Regions from separate parts of the Homo sapiens genome. Here region 1 is linked to region 2. Evidence: fine-mapped expression QTL. A gene starts in region 2. The other region holds a variant in brackets. All regions are shown on one strand. Distances are from middle to middle.

Region 1 (10,806 bases), 39 kb after region 2:
TATTTCTGTGGGCCAACCTGGACTTACTCTGTGGATTGAGCCCTGGTTTCAAAGTCTGAGCAGAGTCTGGGAAAAATGAAGTCTGGCTGTGTGCTAAAGTCTGGCTGTGTGGCATTAGATTCACCACTTGGCCGTATCACTTACTGGCTCTTTGACTTTGGGCAAGTCCATCACTTTCACTTGGTTTTAGCTCCTCTGGAAAATAAATATAATCATACCCTACCTATTTCATCAGGGTATTGTAAAATCCATGAGATAATACCTCATCATGGTTTAAGTTCCTGGCATTTCAGCATGCAGGCAATGAAAATTTCTCCTTATGATCCCAGCTCCTTACATCCCTAATTGTATCTGTCTTTTGCCCTGTCCCCCTATTACTTCTTACCAGGTGTGAATTGGGGCAAGGGAGAAAAAAATGATTTGTTCAGACATATAAATACACAACAAAGTATTAGTCAGTGCATCAAGCTAAATACTTTAAGCTAGCAATGATTCGTTTATGTATTTATTCATTCATTTGATAAATATCTATTAGCCACCTACTAGTAAAATATATTTAATTTTGTTTTATAATATTTGTATTAAAGATAATATATATTTTTGGATGAGTGAGTAAAAAGATGATTAAGTATAAATCCAATGTATTGAGACTCTAGATGGTAGCAGCAGCTGCGTGGCTGAGTAAGGACATAAGCCGGGTCTGTGGAAATGTTATAGAAGTTGGTCTAAAGAAAGGTTATATACAGAAAGACTATTTGAACAACAAAGGACTTATTAAATTGAATTCATGTTCAAGGGGAAATTATGCTTGAGCCATGAATGACAACCTGTCAATCAAAGTAAGTTTCAATATCCAGGGTAGGAGGGAGGGAAATATTTAGCTCCCTTCTTTCCACATCAGATCTGCCCCCGCTTTCCACCCTTTTCTTCACTCACTTACTTGCTTGCCCTCTAAAAGATGCAGAGTGGCAACTTGCTTCATGGTGGTCTTTTAAGAAATGAACCTGCATTCTACTTCCTGTTTCCTACTTTAAAGTGAAAACGAGGTCAAAACAGAGTTTGGCTCTTCGAAACTAGCCAAGGCAAATTAACTCTAACATTTCTTTCTGTCTCTTCCATACATTTAGTTATTTGGATAAGGTAAGCTGGACCTTTACCCCTTCAACTTCCTTCTGTTTCATGATCAGTTAGATGTGGTAAGATCCCAGGATTTAGATTTGGAGGAACTAACACCTTTTAGTCCTTGAGCCTCTAAGTAGTGTGGAATCTACCTTTTACCAGTGCTTGTATGAATTTAGTTCTGTAGTATAATAGGAAATCACACTAATAACTAGAATCAAATGCACTCTTCCCCTCAAAAAGGATAATATGGGAAGAATTCCAAAAAATAAAACTTGGGAAAGGCTCTATAGTAAAATATAGTTGCCCAAATATCTCTTTATTTCATTGGGTTTGTCTAGGCAAGTTGAACATTTCTGGTCCAGAATCTTTAGTTAATCCCAACTAAGATACAATGAAGAAGTAAGACCTCAGAACTACTGTATTAGAGTTTGTGGATAAATGTAGAGTTATAACAGCCAGTATAAGTATGAGCAAAGACTGGGATCATTACCTTGAATAAAATGGTATGATTTTTCACAGAGCTTCTAGAGCAGTTTCTAAAATAAATATGGAGAAGATAGAAGAGCCAAGAATAGCCAAAAGATTTTAAAAACAAAGAGTATGAGGGGATGTCAATCATTACTGCATACCTCCGTACTTATTAAAAGAGGAAGAATATCACTGAAAAGGCTCTTAATAACATAACATCTGGCTTATAAAAATCCTGAGTTAGGAAGGACATTCCTTACCTCTTAGATTTATATACATAGGTCCACGAACTCCTTGATTGCATACACCCCATTATTAATATTTCATGAATCTTCCAGATTCATTCATTCACAAATATTTATTGATCACTGCCTATGTGCCCAGTATTTTGCTAGTTGCAGGGAACTGATTGCTAGTTGCAAGATAAACTATTCTTCCTTGCTTTCCTCAAGCAAATCTCCAACATTGAAGTGAATTACCTAATGTGATAAAAACAGTAAGTGGCAGTGTGCGGTCTTCTAACTCTAAACCCAATCTTTGAGGTAAACAAGGTTGAGAATTAGGAGAGATCTAGCAGACGGTATTTTAAAAGATAGAATAAAACTCTGGGGGAAGAGTTTATTAGCAAAGACACTTAGGCCTGGACATGTGGGAGGGTTTCAGTGAGGGGGGTAGGAGATATCAAAAACACACTCTCTTCCTTTTGGGATAAAAATACTCTAAAACTAATTATGGTGATGTTAGCACTACTCAGTAAAGTTGCCAAAAATCATCAAATTGGACACTTAAAATAGATGAATTTTATAATATGTAAAATGTAACTCAATAAAGCTGTTAAAATATTTTTTTTTAGCTGTGACATGAAAAAAGCTTGGAAGTCATCACTCCCACACTCAAAATGGTAAAAACATTGAACAAACTGAAAATCAATGACATTTCTTAAGTCCATCAAAGAAGTAAGGTTACAGGGCAAACTACCTCCCCACTGCCCTCTAAATCTGGAAAGACTGGCAAATACAAAGAATCAGAGCCAAGATCAGTTTACCTGAAGCAGAAGCCACCAGAACAATAAATGGGTAGAAACACTTGTATGGTAATTTTGAGGAATTTCTGGAAGCTGAGTGTACTAGCTTGAGGTTTAAACTCTTAAAGGTCTAGTCCCTATGGAAGCCAATACTTTGCAGATTTACCTCCTGGAGCTTCACCAGGTTCTTTTCTTGAGGATCAGAGAAAAATTTCTATCTGTATTTGGAGAAGAGGGAGGGGAAGAGTAACCATTTTGAATATACTCAGAATTCCTCCATAACAAAAGCCTACCCTCCCAGGGGAGGAGGTGGAGCAATATGGTGGAATAGAAGGGCTCCAGCAATCATCCCCCACTCATCACAAAGACACAATTTAAGAACTGTTCACACACAAAAAAGCACCCTCATAAGAAAAAAAAACTCGGTGACCACTCAAAGTACCTGGTTTTAACTTGATATTGCTGAAAGAGGCACTGAAGAGGTAGCATTAACAGTCTTAAATTGCTGATGACACTGCCCCCCACATCCTAGCAGTGGTGGCGTGGTATGGACAGCATTTCTGGGTGCTGGGGGAGGGAGAGCAAAGCAATTGTGAGACATTGAACTCAGTACTGTCTTGTTATAGCAGAAGGAAAAACTGGAACAAATTCAGCTAACACCTGCCCACGGAGGAAGCATTTAAACCAGCCCAAGCCAGAGGGGAACTGCCCATTCAGCTGTTGGAACTTGAGTTCCCACAAGCCTCGCCACCATGGGCTAAAGTGCTATGGGGCCCAAAATGAACTTGAAAGGCAGTCCAGGCCACAAGGACTGCAACTCTTACGTGAGTCCTAGTTCTGAACTGGGCCCAGAGATAGTGGACTGGTGGGGACATATGACCTACTGAAACACCAGTTGGAGTGGCTAAGGGAGTGCTGGCATCATCCCTCCCCTAACCTCAGGCTGCATAGCCAGTGGCTCCAAAAGAGAATTCTTCCTTCTGCTTGAGGGGAGGAGAGGGAAGAGTGGGAAGAACTTGTTCTTCCATCTTGGATACCAGCTGAGTCACAGCATGTTAGGGGATGAGTCAAAGACATGAGGCTTTAACTCCCAGACAACTTTTCCAGACACATTCTGGGCCAGAAGGGAACATACTGCTTTGAAGGATCTAGTTCTTGCAGAATTAATTACCTGCTAACTGAAGAGCTCTTGGGCCTGGAATAATTAGCAGTGATACCCACATCAAATGCCTTGGATAAGACTCAGACTTGCTGGCTTCAGGTGAGACTATGCACATTCCAAGCTGTGGTAGCTACAGGGCAAGCCCCCTTCTGCTTGAGAAAGCAGAAAGAAAAGTAAAGAGGACTTTGTCTTACACCTTAGGTACCACCTCGGCCACAAGGATGTAGAGTACCAAGTGGGCTCTTGGGGTCCCTGATTCCAATATTTGGCCTTGGATGGCATTTATATACCTGCCCTGGGCCAGAGGGGAGTGTATTGCCCGGAAGGGTGGGTCCCAGGCCAAGCAGCATTTGCCGCAAGCTGACTGAAGAGCCCATGGGCCTTAAGGGAACATTGGCGGAAGTCTGGCAGTATTTCCAATGAGCCTGTGGTGGCAGCGGCTATGTAATGAGGTTCCTCTGCCTTTGGAAAGGGGAGGGAATAGTGAGAAAGACTGCATTTTGTGGTTTGAATGCCAGCTTAGCCGCAGTACAATAGAACACCAGGTAGACTTCTAAGGTTTTTGATGCTAGTTCCTGGCTCCCTGACAGCACCTCTGGATCTGCCTGGAGCCTGGAGGAACACATTGCCCTGAAAGGAAGGACATAGGGCTGGCTGGCTTTACTACCTGCTGATTTTAGAGGCCCAGGGCCTTGAGCAAACACAGGCAGTAGCCAGGGGATGGTTACAGCAGGCCTTGGGTGAGACCCAGTACTCTGCTGGCTTCAGGTCTGACCCAGTACAGTTATAGTGGTGGTGGTCTTGGGGTGCTTGTGTCACTTCACTCCCAGCTTCAGATGGCTCAGAACAGTGAGCCATCTCAGAACAAGACTACTTCAAGACATTTAATAATCAAACTCCTAAAGATCAAGGATAAAAAAAGAAACCTAACAGCAGCAAGAGAAAACAAATAACATGTGAATGGAGCTCCAATACATGTAAACAGCAGACTTTTCAGTGGAAACCTTACAGGCCAGAAGAGAGTGGCATGACATATTTAAAGCACTGGAGGAAAAAAATAATTTACCCTACAATAGTATATTCAGCAGAAATGCTCTTCAAACATGAAGAAAAAATACTTTCCCAGACAAAAAAAAAAAAAAAAAAAAATGCTGAGGGATTTCATCAACACTAGACCTATCCTACAAGAAATGCTAAAAGGAATACTTCAATCAGAAAGAAAAGGATCCCAGCACTTTGGGAGGTCGAGACGGGCAGATCACGAGGTCAGGAGATCGAGACCATCCTAGCTAACACCGTGAAACCCCGTCTCTACTAAAAATACAAAAAAAACTAGCTGGGCGTGGGCGTGGTGGCAGGCGCCTGTAGTCCCAGCTACCCGGGAGGCTGAGGCAGGAGAATGGCGTAAACCCAGGAGGCGGAGCTTGCAGTGAGCCAAGATTGCACCACTGCACTCCAGCCCGAGGGACGGAGCGAGACTCCACCTCAAAAAAAAAAAAAAAAAGAAACAAAGAAAGAAAAGGATATGCAGAATAATGAACCTAGACCCCCATCTCTCACTCTATACAAAAATCAAATGAAAATAGATTAAAGACTTAAATCTAATACCTCAAACTATGAAACTACTATAAGAAATCACTGGCAGAAATCTTCAGTACGTTGGTCTGAACAAAGATTTCTTGAGTTATACCTCACAAGCACAGGCTACCAAAGCAAAACTGGACAAATGGGATCACATCAAGTGGAAAAGCTTCTGCACAGTAAAGGAAACAATCAACAAAGTGAAGAGACAACCCACAAAATGAGAGAAAATATTTGCAAACTACCCTTCTGACAAAGGATCAATAACCAGAATATGTAAGGAGTTCAAATAACTCTATAGAAAAAAAACTGATAATCTAATCAAAAAACGGACAAAAGATTTAGATAGACATTTCTCCAAAGAAGGCATACAAATGGCAAAC[A/G]GATATATGAAAAAGTTCCCAACATTACTGATCATCAGAGAAATACAAGTCAAAACCACAATGAGATATTATCAAGTTATAATGGCTTATATCCAGAGACAGCCAATTACCAATGCTGATGAGGATGTGGAGAAAAGGGAGCCCTTGCACACTGTTGGTGGGAATGTAAATTAGTGCAACCACTATGGATAACAGTTTGGAGATTCCTCAAAAAATAAAAATAAAAATAGATCCATATGATCCAACCATCTCATTATTGAGTATATATCTAAAAGAAAGGAAATCAGTATATTGAAGGGATATCTGCACTCTAATGTTTGTTACAGCACTGTTCACAACAGCCCAGATTTGGAAATAATCTAAGTGTCCATCAACAGATGAATGGATAAAGAAAATCTGATACATATACACAATGGAATACTATTCAGCCACAAAAAGAATAAGATCCTGTCATTTGCAACAATATGAATGGAACTGAAGGTTATTGTGTTAAGTGAAATAAGCCAGGCACATAAAGACAAACATCACATATTCTTACCTATTTGTGGGATCTAAAGATAAAAATGATTGGAATTATGAAGACAGACATTAGGAGGTTTGTTCCTAGAGCCTGGGAAGGATAGTCGGGGGGTGTGGGGGGAGGTGGTGATGGTTAATGAATACAAAAATATAGTTAGAAAGAATAAATAAAACCTACTATTTGATAGCACAACAGGGTGACTATAGTCAATAATAATTTCATTGTACATTTAAAAATAACTAAAAGAGTATAATTGGATTGTTTGTAACCCAAAGGATAAATGCTTGAGAAGGTGGATACCCCATTCTCCATGATGTGATTATTACTCATTACATGACTGTATCAACCATCTCATGTATCCCATAAATATATATACCTACTACGTATTTACAAAAATAAAAAATTATGAAAAGAAAAAAATATCCTGCCATGCAAGGGGAACTACATTACCAGAGTCTTACCTGATGTAGGGGAGGGGCAATTGGCCAGATCTAGCCCTCTCTATCCTCCCTGCTACAGATAAGAGGACAAGGGGGAAGAAAAAAGACTAGTCCCTGAGAAAACTTAACACCAAGAAAAGACAGCTCTCATTCAGTATTAACAGGTGATTAGTTCCTAGAACCTTTTCACCTGTGGATACCAAAATCCAGGGACACTTGAGTTCTTCAAAATATAAAATTGTATGGTATTTGCATATAACCTACGTACTTCTTCCTGTATATTTTAAATCATTTCTAGATTACTTACAATACTGAACACAATGTAAATGCTACGTAAATATAGTTGTTATACTGTATTTCTCCTTGAGATAAATCTTGCTATGTTGCCTAGGTTAGCCTTGGACTCCTGGGCTCAAGTTTTCCTCCTGCCTTTGGGTCCTGAGTAGCTGGAACTGTAGTCATATGCCACTGCATCTGGCTTGTTTATAAATTTGTATTATTTTAAATTATTTTGAATATTTCAATTGAAAATTGGTTGACTCTACAGATACAGAACCTGTGACTACAGAGGGCCAACTGTACTGCTGAAGGTCACAGCCCAGGAACCCAAGCTGAACACCAAAAATGAGATCTTATCATAAGATTATAGAAAGCTTCTCATCAATAACACTTTACTATCTGTATTAGTCTATTCTCACATTGCTATAAAGAAGTACCTGAGACTGGGTAATTTATAAAGAACAGAAGTTTAATTGACTTACACTTCTACAGGCTGTACAGGAAGCATGGCTGAGAGGCCTCAGGAAACTTACAATCATGGTGGAAGGGTGGAGGCAAAGCAAGCATGTCTTCACATGGTGGCAGGAGAGAGAGAGAGAGAGAGAGACAGAGAGAGACAGAGAGAGACAGAGACCAAGAGAGCAAAGGGGCAAGTGCTACACACTTTCAAACAACCAGATCTCATAAGAACTCTATTTTGAGAACTCCAAGGGGGAATTCCGCCCCCATGATTCTATCACCTCCCACCAGCCCCCTCCTTCAACACTAGGAATTACAATTTGACATAAGATTTGGGTGGGGTCACAGAGCCAAACCATATCATTCCACCCCGGCCCCTCCCAAATCTCATGTACCTCTCACATTTCAAAACACAATCATGCCTTCCCAACAGTCTCCTAAAGTCTTAAGTTGTTCTATCATTAACTCAAAAGTCCAAGTCCAAAGTCTCATTTGAGACAAGGCAAGTCCCTTCTGCCAATGAATCTGTAAAATCAAAAACAAGTTGGTTACTTCCAAGATACAATGAGGGTATAGGCACTAGGTAAGACCAAAAGGGAGAAATTGGCCAAAACAAAGAGGCTACAGGTGCCATGCAAGTCTGAAACCTGGCAGGGCAGTTATTAAATCTTAGAGCTCCAAAATAATCTCCTTTGACTCCATGTCTCACATCCAAGTCACATTGACACAAAGGGTGGGCAGCTTCACCCCTGCAGCTCTGCAGGGTACAGCCTTCGTGACTGCTTTCATGGGCTGGTGTTGAGTGCCTGCAGCTTTTTCAGGTGCACATTGCAAGATGTCAGTGGATCTACTATTCTGGGATCTGAAGGATGCTAGCCCTCTTCTCATAGCTCCACTAGGCAGGCCCCAGTGGGAAATTGTGTGGGGGCTTCAACCCTCTATTTCCCCTCTGCAGTGCCCTAGAAGAGGTTTTCCACAAGGGCTCTGCCCCTGCAGCAGACTTCTGCCTGTACATCTAGGCATTTCCATACATCCTCTGAAATCTAGGCAGAGGTTCCCACACATCACCTCTTGCCTTTTGCACACCTGCAGGCCCAGCACCACGTGGAAGCTGCCAAGGCTTGGGGCTTTCACCCTCTGAAGTCATGGCCTGAGCTGTACCTTGGCATCTTTTAGCCATGGCTGGAGCTGGAGCAGCTGAGATGCAGGACACCATGTCCTGAGGCTGTGCAGAGCAGCTGAGTCCTGGGCCTGGCCCGTGAAACCATATTTTCCCTCCTAGGCCTCTAGGCCTGTGATGGGAGGGGCTGCTGTGAAGGTCTCTGAAATGCCCTGGAGACATTTTCCCCATTGTCTTCACTATTAACATTTGGCTCCTCTTTATTTATGCAAATTTCTTCAGCAAGCTTGACTTTCTCCCCAGGAAATGGGTTTTTCTTTTCTACCACATGGCCAGGCAGCAAATTTTCCAAACTTTTATATTCTGCTTCCATTTTAAATATAAGTTCTCTTTGCTTATGCAAATGAGCTAGGCTTTTAGAGCAACCAGGCCACATCTTGAATGCTTTGCTACTTAGAAATTTCTTCTGCCAGGTACCCTAAATCATCTCTCTTGTGTTCAAAATTTTAGAGATCCCTGGAGCAGGGGCACAATACTGTCAGTCTCTTTGCTAAAGCATAGCAAGTGTGACCTTTGCTCTAGTTCCCAATAAGTTTTTCATCTCCATCTGATACCACCCGGCCTGGACTTCAGTGTTCATATCACTATCAACATTTTGGTCACAATCATTCAACACGTCTCTGGGAAGTTCCAAACTTTCCCACATCTTCCTGTCTTCTTCTGACCCCTCCAAACTGTTCCAGCCTCTGCCTATTACCCAGTTCCAAAGTTGATTTCACATTTTCAGGTATCTTTATAGCAATGCCCCACTTCTCTTATACCAATTTTCTGTATTAGTTCATTCTCACACTGCTATAAAGAAGTACCTGAGACTGGGTAATTTATAAAGAAAAGAGGTTTGACTCACACTTCCACATGCTGTACTGGAAGCATGGCTGGGAGGCCTCAGGAAACTTAGAATCATGGTGGAAGGGTGGAGGGGAAGCAAGTATGTCTTCACATGGTGGCAGAAAAGAGAGAGAGCATGAAGAGGAAAGTGCTACACACTTTAAAACAACCATATCTTGTGAGAATTCTATCATGAAAACAGCAAGGGAGAAGTTTACCCTCATAATTCTATCATCTCCCACCAGGCCCCTCCTTCAACATGGGAAATTACAATTCAACATGAGATTTGGGTGGGAACACAGAGCGAACCCATATCACTATCACATCAGCAAAGCTGCAGTATAGTATCAGTGGATTACAATGAAGAGAGGTACAATACACAAACTCAACTTAAGAAGGAATCCTTAGGTAAGCACAAAGACAAGAGGGGAATAAAACACACACACAAAAACTAGAGGCAACTAAAATCTCTGGTATCTACAGCCACAGTAAATAAACATTAAATACAGTGGAGTGCCTAGTTAGATTACCATAAAACCTCACACCAAAAGCCTAATCACCCCTGTTCCTATTACCCAATACATTATGTCTGGCTTTCAACAAAAAGTTACAAGGCATGCTCAAAGCCAAGAAAAAATATAGTCTGAAGAGACAAAGTAAGCATCAGAAATAGACTTAGATATAGCACAGATTTTGGAATTATCAGATGGTGAATTTAAAATAACTATGATTAATATATTAAAGAACTTGAAGAAAAAGTTGACAACATACAAGAACAGGTGAAGAATATAAGCAAAGAGATGGAAACTTTGGGAATTAAAAGAAATGCGAAGAACTAAAATCTTGTAAAAGAAATAAAGAATGCCATTAATGAGCTTATCAGCAGACTAGACATTGCCAAGGCAAGAATAAATAAACTTGAGATATGTTAATAAAAACTTCCCAAACTGAAACGTAAACATCGTTTAAAAAGAACAAATATGAATATCTTAATAAACTAGGAATATTGGAGAACATTTTCAACTTGATTAAAAATAGCTATAAAAAATCTATAACAAATATCATAATGCTGAGACACTCAAAGCTTTCCCACCAAGGAACAACATCCCCTTTTACCACTGCGATTTTAGTATCATACTGGAAGTTTTAGCTAATGCAATAAGACAGGAAACAGAAAAAAAGGTATACAGATTGGGAAGGAAAAAATGAAGCTGTTTGTTCACAATTTTCATGATCATCTATGCAGAAAATTCAATAGTTGAAAAAACACCCAACTCCTAGAAAAAATAAGTGATTATAGCAGGGTTGCGGATTATAAAGTTAATACACACAAGTCAATTGCTTTTCTATATACCAGCAG
Region 2 (10,806 bases):
GAAAGAAAGTCTCATTTGGTATCCCTACTAAAGGGGATGGTATAGGTGAGGTGAGGTAGAAGTGGATGAGGTGGGGGGTAAGGAAAAGGTCACTGAAAGAAACATAACCCCCACTTCATAGCACTCTGGCCTTGGATTCATGCAATAGTTCAAGATGATTTGTGTTTTATATGTTCTGAATTATAAAAAGGTGAAAAATGTTTCAGGAACTTGGTTACTAGTTTTCTCTGTCAGCATATTTGAAATTATATTTTTAGATGTCCCAAACATTCAGATTGGATTTAGGTTTCTTAATAAGGACACACTAGGCTGGAGTTTACCTTTACATTTAGCGTTAGAATTGCACACTGGTTATCCTATAAATGTATCAAGAAGGTAATTTTAAAATATAAAACCTTTTAACAGCTTTAGCTTATGTTGGAAACATGTGATCTCAATGAAAAGTGTAAAAAAGCAGCCTGCCAGATGTTTTGACTACATGGTGTATCACATCTTAATGTTTCCAGGATTGGCAGTGGTAATACTAGAGATTCAAAATTGTAGAGTTAACAAGTTGTGTTTTAACCTTTTCTTATTCTTTACTTTAAAAAATGTTTTATAATAAAAACATTTATATGATGAAATTTTTACTTTCAAACACATGTTTTTAGGAGGAATATTTATAAACCACAAATAAAATCTACAAAGACTATATTGTGTTTCTTATAGTAAGTATATAAACTATTGGCCAGTATGGCTGGGGAATGAGATTTTCAGATTAATCAAGTATTCTGCTAATGCATACCACAACTATTATAACTTTCAAGTGTTAAAAGCTCAACACTACATCCATACCAAACATGATTTGCATGTGAATATACAGGAAGACACTTCAGAATCTTGCTGGAGCTTGTGTCATAATTTTGATCAACAGCTTAAATGTACATGAATTTGCTTCAACAGAGTTCTAGTTAATATTTCATCATACTTATGCTCATCATTACCTATAAGATGACATTTGAGGAAGAAGACCAGGTGCCACTTGAACTGAGATAACAAAGGGGGAGAGGAAGGCAGCAGCAACCACTGACCAAAACAACACAACAAACCCCAGCACTGCTCACTCTCCTGAAAATGCCACCCCCGTTCCAACTCTAAACTAATCTCAAAGACTCGCCTCTGAAAATGTGTGTATGTGTGTGCGTGCAGGTGGTTTATTGCTATTAGTCATATCTTTGCTAGCAGTTAATGCCTTAGCAAAGGGTTAAGAAAGAAAGAACACAGGATGGAAAAGGGTGAGCCGGGAGCTGCGGTTCATGCCTGTAATCCTAGCACTGTGGGAGGCAAAGGCGCGTGGATCGCTTCAACTCAGGAGTTCAAGACCAGCCTGGACAACATGGTGAAACCCTGTCTCTACAAAAAATACAAAAATTATCTGGGCATGGTGGCATGCACCTGTAGTCCCAGCTACTTGGGAGACTGAGGTGGGAGAATTGCTTGAGCCAGGGAGGCATAGCAAGCAGTGAGCCGAGATTGGGCCACTGCACTCTAGCCTGGGGGACAGAGAAAGACCCTGTCTCAAGAATTAAAAAAGGTGGTACCAGGAGGGAAAAAAGTGGATCTGTTAGAGAGGTGGAAGTACCCATGATAAATATCATCTGCTTTACAGTTTTGCTGAGGGCCTCAATTATGATAACCTACTGTTTAGGGTATTGAAAACAACGTTCTACAGTCTTACCTTCAATTGGTTTCTTATGTATTTTGTTTCTAGTGAACCTAAATAAATCACCAGGGGCGAGATCTAATGTACTAACATAACTTAAATTACCTAAGCTATTCCCCTTTGTAGAGATTTTAAGAAAAATCTTAAGTAAAGTCATATAGAAAAACAAATGCAAAACTCCCCTGGGGGAAAACAAATGGCTACTTTTTGGGCTGTTAATAATCTTACAATTTTTGTCATTTAAATTTTCCTTAGTTTATGTCTTGTGAAGCTAGAGGGTGTGGAATGATTCCCCAGACAGCTTGAATAAGTCAAAAAGTCTGCTTTGAATGCCTAAAATAAAGATCAGTTACAATTACAAATAGATTTTTTGTTTGATTGCCTTCTGAAATAACTTTCTTTTATTAAAAAACCCATTGCTGTGGATTCTTCAATAACAATTCAAAAAATCTTAGTAGAAAATTGAAATTATATTTCTCTGTATTTATACCACCCCAGAAATAAAACAGCTAGGTTAAGAAAACATTGAGAGACATGTAATAATTTCCTCTAACTGGAAATGTTAACTCAAATGCACATAGGCAAATAATCACCTCAGCCCTGAACATACAGAGGTATTGGTGGAATTAAGACCATAGGCCCTCAATGAGCAACAGAGTTTTGTCAGAACCGATGCTAAAGTATATTCAATCATCATCAGTGCCCTTGGTCAAAAGAAAAAAATAAGTAAATCTAAAACAGTCACAAAAGAAGCAACCTTTGCTTCATTTACTGGGGTGACTAACTCCCCTTGGAAATAATTGGTAAGGCAGCTGGATAAAAACATAGCTCCAGGACCCTGCTCCTAAGAAATATACCTGCGGCTTTTACTATGAAACCAAGAAATATCTGTTACTCTATGCTCTATCTGTAATAGATGCCAACTTTTATTTTCTAATGAACTAGCAGAGCAAACCAAATGTGTGTTTTTAAAAGTCTGCGGTTTCTAAAATGAATTCAGATTCTACCATAAACCAGATGAATTAGCCATATGTATGAGAATTAATAGACTTTATCTGCAAAATCATTAAGTTGCAAAAACAAAGGCACCACAGGAGTTTTAAATTAGACTATTTTTAAGTCTTCCTGAGAACACCTGCCCCTACTTCAAACTGCTAATTTACAAAGCACTTTATTTTAAAGTCTCTTGGATACAGAAAAGAGAAGAATTAGAATGCATAGCAAAAGATTGCAAACATTTCTGTTTCACTCTTGTTTTAAGGTATCAGTCAAGTAACATTATGTTTCAAATTAACTCCAAAGCTGGCAGAAATGTTAGTAAATCTGCTTATCCCTGGTCCACTTTACCAAATATGGATTCAGATTTTAATCATACACATTTTGGAGTGTTTGGAATGTGTTTCTTCTTATCTGTGATTAGAGTCAGGTACACACAGGAAGATGATAGTATCTCTGATAAGGAAACGTTATTTTGTCCATAGGCTAAATAATATTCTTTGGGGGAAGAGATATGAGTTTAAAATGTAAGCCAACAAGTATATTATGAATCAATCTGTCATAGGTATTTTTTTGTTGGGGGGAGCAGATGCCCATTCAGATCATCATACTATTGAATAACTACTAAACGTACCTACTAAGGCCTCGGAAGTTTTATGCTTAACATTAATGGTTAATAGTAAGTAGGAAAAAAGTATTATGCTCTGAAATTTTGGTGGATGTATTGATTACAGTCTTTATTTAGTAATGTTTTAATTTAAGCTTGGCAGCAAAGATTTGTGAGTTTTACTGCAAGTCATCATATTTGCTGTTACAGCAGTGCACAAGCAAAAGACATTAAGTTGGGAGAATATGCAGAGTCTTATATTTTGTTTATTCTTTCAAAGTGAAATTAAACCCTCAGACATTGTTCCAGGCAACTCAAGTTTCAATAACATTCTCCTTTGAGATATTGAGAAAATTGAGTTAAAATTGTTTTTGGGTGCATGAATTTACCATATTGTTGCTTCGATTCTTCATTCACAGTAACATATTTTTTAAGCAACAAAACAATACTGTGCAAAGTTTTTGTTAATTTCCCCTTAGTGGTCAATTGTCAATTTTGTGTAAATGAACAATTTTTTGAGGGTTGACTCTATTAAAATCTTCCTGTTTTACCCTTGTGAAGAAACTGTTTAAAAAACAGATAATATATAAAATTGTAAGTATCATTCTTGGGTGAAGATGAAGCATAAAACTATAGTAATAATTCTTTGTTAATTTTTTCAGCAGTCATTATTTGAATTCTTCTATGTTACTTAACTTTTCAATTGGTGTAGCTTTTATAAGAAACATGCAGATCACATTGATCATATATAATATTTAAAAATATACTTCATTCACTACTTTTTGTCTATCAAATGTGATATAATCACATTAATAATTTTCAAAACAGGATGATGTTAGTCATACGGGAAATCTTTTGGAATTCTGGCACTGTATATTGAGAATTCTTATAAAAATTGAGACTATGATGAAATATTGTGTTTTATTTAAAAATGGATTATAGTCCAAAAGAATTTCCCTAAGTTATGGAAATTAAATCTGGGTAGTACTAAGTCATAAATATAACAACATATTTATCTATTTCCAATTGCTCTAAAAGACACAGAAGCAAAATCCTCAGTATTCATAAATGTTATACACCAGGATAAAGGCATCACACATAATGATTGTATTTGACCATCTTTGGAATGGAAAGGAAGCCCAAACATCAAACCTGATGACTAAACCATTTAGGTGCGATAAAGAGTCCAGTTCATACTTTAGAAAGCTGAGTTAGTATTTTATTTTTCTCCCAAAGCATATATCTGCCTTTATAAGAACCAACCAACCGTATGAATGAGAACTGGAGTCAAGGTTAAAGTAATCTTGCCCAAGAGAGTAGAGTGTGTTTGCATCGGAAAGAAGCAGCGGCTCAGCTCAGATGAATATTAATAACAACCGGAGGCAGCACCTCCCCTGAAAAACATTAGAGCTCCTTGGACATGTGTTTGAAATTCATCCTCCCAAGTCATCCTGTGACTATTGGAGTAGATGGCAATGTCCCATAATGTGAAGGGGGAAAATACACTATAAATCGTTTTTTAAATATAACACTTTAAAAAATGAAACGAAAGTGACAGAGTGTTCTAAGTCAAGCAACCTTTTCAGATGGTAAAGGAAAAGCTTTGTCTTTCCTATTATTGTTTGCCCTTCAGTTGACATACATGCTGAGATGCATCAATAGGATTACAACGGAAACACGGTCATCTCTAGGGTTTCCTCTGTTTCGATTCCTTGATCCTGTTTAAAGAAACAGGCTCAGGGAATGCACAGAAAACAAACTTCCCCAATCGAAGTTCTGAGGTCTTCCCTCCCCTTCTCCCACCTTCGGAAACCGGTCTAGTTTTCCCGGCAGCACCGGACAGAAATGTCACGGTCATGTTGCATCACTTCACTTGTTGAGCTGTGCGAAGGCAGCACTTGACCACAGAAACTTGGTGAACCGCCTTGCTCTTAAATTAGCCCCCAAGAATTCTCTCCAGCCCTATAGAAATGTCTTACCTGCATGTGTCCCTGGTACATTCTGCTTCGGTTTCTTCAGGGCTCCCTGAGGCCACCGGATGCTTTTCCCCCGTGCTTACTTGCCCACCAAAAGAGGGGAAAAGGTGGGTGCACAGCGGGTTCTCAGAGGGTGCTCCTGAGCCCCCTGGAGCTCCGGGTACTCGGCCGGCCGGCGGCCACTCGGCAGCGCTGCGGGCTGCCGGGAACTGTTCTCCGCTCGGGGTGCTGAAAGCGGACGCGGGAGAGCGCGCAGAGAAGGCGAGGAGCCGGGTCGGCCAGGCTCTCCTGCAGGCGCGGGTCCTGCTCGCGGGGCGTCTCTAGAACTCACTCCTTCTTCGCCGAACTCTTTCTCGCTTCCTGCCAGGTTGCCTCATGTCTCTCTCTCTCTGAGCTGCGAACCCCCTCCTCCCAGCCCTGACGTGAGCGCCTACACCAGCCGCCGCCGCAGCTGCCGAGCGGGGCGCGCGCCGTTCTCCCAGCCGCGTGCCTGCCGAGAGGCCGCGGGACCGGGCACGCGCGCGCGTTCCCAGGGGCCTGGGAGCGGCCCGAGGGCGGCCCCGGGCGGTGCGCGCTCCCCGAGCGCGTCCTCGGGGCTGCGCGCGCGCGGCGGCAAGGCGAGGTGCCGGCAGGCGGTGGTCGCGCTGGTGTACAACGCCCGCAGCAGCGCGGCGTTCAGGTGCGGCGTCGGCGGGCAGGGCGATTCTAGCGGAGAGGATGGCCGGCCGGAAGAAAGGCGGGAAGACATGCATCGTCTCTCCGGGGGCCATCCACCGCGGCTGAGCCTGTTATCCTACAGACATTATAGGCTGAGTGCAGGGGTTGCCGAAGAGTTTACTTCGGTTCTGATTCAGCTCTCGAAAGTTACGTCCGTATCACCCGTTAAATAAAGACTCCCCGCTCCCCTCATCCCCAGTTCATCGCCGAGCATTCTATTTAAAACGGCAAACCCTAGTCCCTGAGGATCTGGCATGTTTTATTTTTTTCCCTAGCACGTAACATCACCTAACATCCTTTATATTTTCCATATTTATTTTATGTACTGTCTGTCTCTCCCTCTGTACAATGTTATTTCCATGAGATCAGGGACTTTTTTTTAGGGGGGTGGAGTGTTGCACTTGGTTTTGCACGTGTGTGCACAGTAAGGTATTTAGTACTTCCTGACACATGGCAGGCACACAATAAATATTTGCTGAATGAATAGACCTTTACTACTATACACTTACACACACATACACACATATATGAAGAGTGCATTTAAATATGTCTCAAGTTGAGACTGGGTAGTTTGATGTGTCTACACAATAAATGTTCATATATACACACACACCACGGGGTGGTGTATACTGTGATTACCTAATTTTGTTGGTAAAAACATCTCCAATTCTACAGGCCCCTCATATTATGTACAGCATGATATCCCCAAAATATTGCATATAGCATAATATGCTTTTTATAAAGTTTAAAAAATCCCTAGAAATGTCAATGTGTATTCATATATTCATATACAACAATATAAAAAGGAAAGCAGTGGAACAATGAATATAGTGTTCAGAGTGTTGGTGACCCTGGGTGAAGGGAGGCAGGGAAATAGATGGGGAAGCATTTCACTTGAAGTTTAGATGTTAATGTCTTATCTTCTATGCCGGGTAGTGATTCATAGGACACCTAATATCCTATTAAAAATTACTGTGTAACTAAATAAAATAGAACCATGTATGGACTAATGAGGAGAATGTGAAATGAACAAAAGGATGTGAAATGAACCAATTCAATGCATCTGAGGTCCTAAAACAACCAACCAAACAAACACAAAAGGACTAAGACCTGTAAGCAGGAGACATGGATTCCTATTAGATTCCACTAGTAGTTACCCTTGGACAATTTCCTTTTACTACTTTGGACATCAGTTTTTTCATGTCTAAACTCTGTATAAAAAACTTATTTTTTTTACCCTGAAAATAGAGATATGTTCATAAGCACTGTAAACTGTAAAATGTCATCCAGTTCTTATTTTATTGTTCTTTATAGGACAAAGCACAGGACTTGGAGTCAGCAACAAGAGGTGCTAGTTCCATCTCACTACCTCAATGCTCTCTTGGGCAAGTGTACCAACTCTCTATTTCCTCAATTTTGAAATAAGACAAATATCTACCTAGTGTGCTGCACAGAGCTGCTGAGGACTGAATGTATGCAAAGGAAGTTGTAAATTACCAACCATGATATATGAATATGCAAACAGACTTTTTTTTCCCAGTTCAGAAAAGATGAGGACTGATTTTCTGAGACCTCAAGTACTGCAGATTTTAAAATGGTACTAATTATCATATAATACTATCATGTTATATAAAAACTGGGAAAAGTATAGTGCTTTGATTTAAAAGTACTAGAAATCTGTGAAGTAACAATAGGGTCAAAGTTTTCCAATCCATTATATGCTTGTTATTATCTAACGGCAGGTTCAAGGAGCCAACAACCATAAAAGCATTTGGATCAGAATGGCAACTGCCTAGTGTTGAAGCTAGAACTCAATATATTCTCTTCTTAAACCTGAGTCACTGATTTCGTTACTGCCTACATTCTCAAAATCTCAGGAGTGAAAGCTTTCCTTTGTGAAGAATTCCTCTTCACACTTATTCCTTCTGTTAGAAGATAAACTAAGGCACATTAAAATTTTAAAGGGTTTTTTGAGCAAATAGCCATTCATGCATCAGGCAGCAGCAGACCGAAAGCAGTTGGGGACTCTGTCGGAAGTCGTTAAAGGGAAAGATTTTATAGGGTAAATGTGGAAGCAGAGCAAAGAAATTATTTGGTTAAAGAGGAATACTGGATTTATTTGGATCATTCTAATGGAAAGTCCATAGTTAGAGGTTAGTTTGTGGTTTCTGATTGGTTAAGCTTAACTTTCACTTTCCTAGACTATTTCTTAGACTAGGAATGAGATTTGAATTATCTTTATTTTCCTCAGAAACAATGCATGTCTAATAAGCTAGGTCCAGAAAAATATTTTACAAAAGATTTATTTTGTAATTAAATTTGAAGACCCTTGTTACTCAAAACGTGGTGTGTGGACCAGCAACATCAGCATGTCCTGGGAGCTTGTAAGAAATGCAGACTCTTGGGTGCCATTTCTGACCTACTGAATTAGAATATGCGTTTCAACAAGATCCCCAGGTGCTTGTATGCACCATAAAATTTGACCAGCACTGTGGCCTAGAAGGTTTATTTATTCATGTAAATATGTGGCAAAGCTAGCTCTTGCCTTTTGCAGTGATAACACATGAGCAACCTCAGTACCACTAGAGAAGAAGAATGCATATTGCACTCCATTTATAAAATAATCTCACTGTATTTTGAGTGGTCAGTGGACTTGGCATAAAATCATAGCACATTCAGCTTTCTTACAGCAAGAAATGTGCTTAGTACCACTGCAATTTTAATCACTGTAATACAATTAAATAATTGAGAGGTAGCAGTAGAATCTATTTTGTATTGACAAAATTTAATTTTGCTTATTAGTAAGCGAATCCTCCTGCATTTCAAATGGGTATTGAAAATTCAGGATTTATTAAATCTTTGAAAAAACTTAGTAAAAATGATGAGGTTAGTGTTCTTGTGGACTTAAAAATCAGAGATAAGAGTCTTTTGATGATTCAATCATTCTTTCATAATCTGTAGAATTCAAACTCTGGTGCTGAAAGATGGTGCAGGAGAGAACAAAAGTCAAAATAATTGTAGACCAAAATTAAAATGACTAATTGGTATTTGTTGTTCAATCAGAAGGAGGAACATTTTGTTAAAGTTTGCCCACTTACCCTTTTTGTCTCTTCGACACATAGAATGAGATTAGCTGGTGTTTCAGGGCATTTGATCTGGAAAAAATTTGGGAACCCCAGGCTGCCAGGAAGAATTATGAATAATAAGAGTATGTGGACTCTGATGACGAGGAGATGGCAGCAATGTTCTTCCAAATGAACAAACAAGCTGGATGCTTCAGAGCTGGGCCTCCTATTAAACCAATTTAAGAAATTACACTATATTTGTTTACTCTTTAGGACAATGTTTTTTCAGTGATCCAATATTGCTTTTAATATTAAGTGTACTTTCTAGAGTTTCTTATTCCTGGTGAGAAAACATTTGTGAACAAAAATATTTCTTGCTTTTGACTACTCCTTTCTACTGTTGCCACTGCCATCCTAGCCCAGATTCCCTAAACCTCTTATCACTTAAAGCTAGTTTTATCACCTCCGTTCATCTCCTACATCAACCTGTCATATACATCGCAGCCAGATTAATTTTATAAAGGTCAGCATTAATCACAATGCTGCTCAGGTCAGAAATCTTTAGTGGCTTTCCATTGCCCACTAATGTCCCAAAACTTCAGCTTTTTATTCACAGTCATGGAATATCGTTTGCTGCCCAGAGCAACATCCTCTTCTAGTGGCAGGAAGCCTCTTTTCTCAAGGCTCTTTGCTTTGAATAACCATCTCTTCCTCACTCTGGTCCACTTGTGTGGTAGGAAACATTTTACTACCAGGCTTTGGGGTTGCAACATAGCACCCAGGCTGAGCCAACCAGTGCATTCCGTCCCCATTGGTCACAGTTGGAGATGGGCATATTACCCACGTCAGTCAATCAGGGAAATGAACTCAGCTCCAGGACTACTCGGGAGCAGATTGATTCTTCCTCTGGACTGGATGTTCTACTGATGTTAGCTTGGAACTGCCAGAATCCAGCACACCAACTCTGAAAAGAAAACCAACCTGGGGGAATAATAATCCAGGCAGGCTCCAGGAGACAAAATTTGAGCCACTAAATAAACCACACTTAAAAGCTAGTCTAAAGTAATCTTTATTTCAGCTAGTGCCATCTCTTTTCTGGTTTACTGGATTTTTGGTCACTTGCAACCAAAAGAATACTTATGAATACAGTGGCTTTCCATAGACTGACCCTGTCTTTTTTCAGTTCTGTATGTTCTCTACCTTTTGCAATAACCCTGCTTTTTAATTATTCCCCAAAGTCAGCCCAAGTTATACTCATACTCTTGCCTCTTCTTGGAATGTACTCTCTCTCCCCACTCCTCTTGAATAAAAGCTCATTCATTTATCAAATTTGGTTTCCAATTCCATTTCCTTCCTGAAGCCTTTCTTCATCCTCTAACTGAATACTTCTCTTTGCTGGGAACTTCTTTATGATACGCCAAATGACATTTTTTTAAATTATAGTTTTTCTTTTTTTGTTGTTTTGGAGACAAACAACAAACTGCCGTCTATTGTTTAGACGGCAGTGCGGTGGCATGATCATAGTTCACTGTAGCCTCAAACTCCTTGGCTCAAGTGATCTTCCTGCCTCAGCTTCCTGAGTTGCTGAAACTACAGGCATGCACCACCATGCCTGGCTAATTTTTTTAAAAACCTTTTTTGTAGAGTTAGGGTCTTTTTATGTTGCTCAGGGTAGTCTTGAATTCCTGGCCTCAAGGGAGCCTTGTGACTCATCCTCCCAAAGTGCTGGAATTACAGGTGTGA

The links.
Region 1: its variant is fine-mapped to the expression of PEX5L in spinal cord (GTEx, PIP 0.97).

What each region holds. Positions count from the first base shown.
Region 1 is chr3:180,070,096-180,080,901 of GRCh38, forward strand. No RefSeq gene overlaps it. Among named protein-coding and RNA genes, the nearest start is that of PEX5L, 39 kb to the left of the region's middle. RefSeq lists enhancers at 3,240-3,905, 8,582-9,106. The variant A/G (reference allele first, on the strand shown) is at 5,741.
Region 2 is chr3:180,031,295-180,042,100 of GRCh38, forward strand. PEX5L (peroxisomal biogenesis factor 5 like) reads right to left here and starts at 5,643. Exons shown (of 15, transcript NM_016559.3): 1 at 5,285-5,643. The coding sequence starts at 5,305. RefSeq lists a silencer at 5,709-5,758.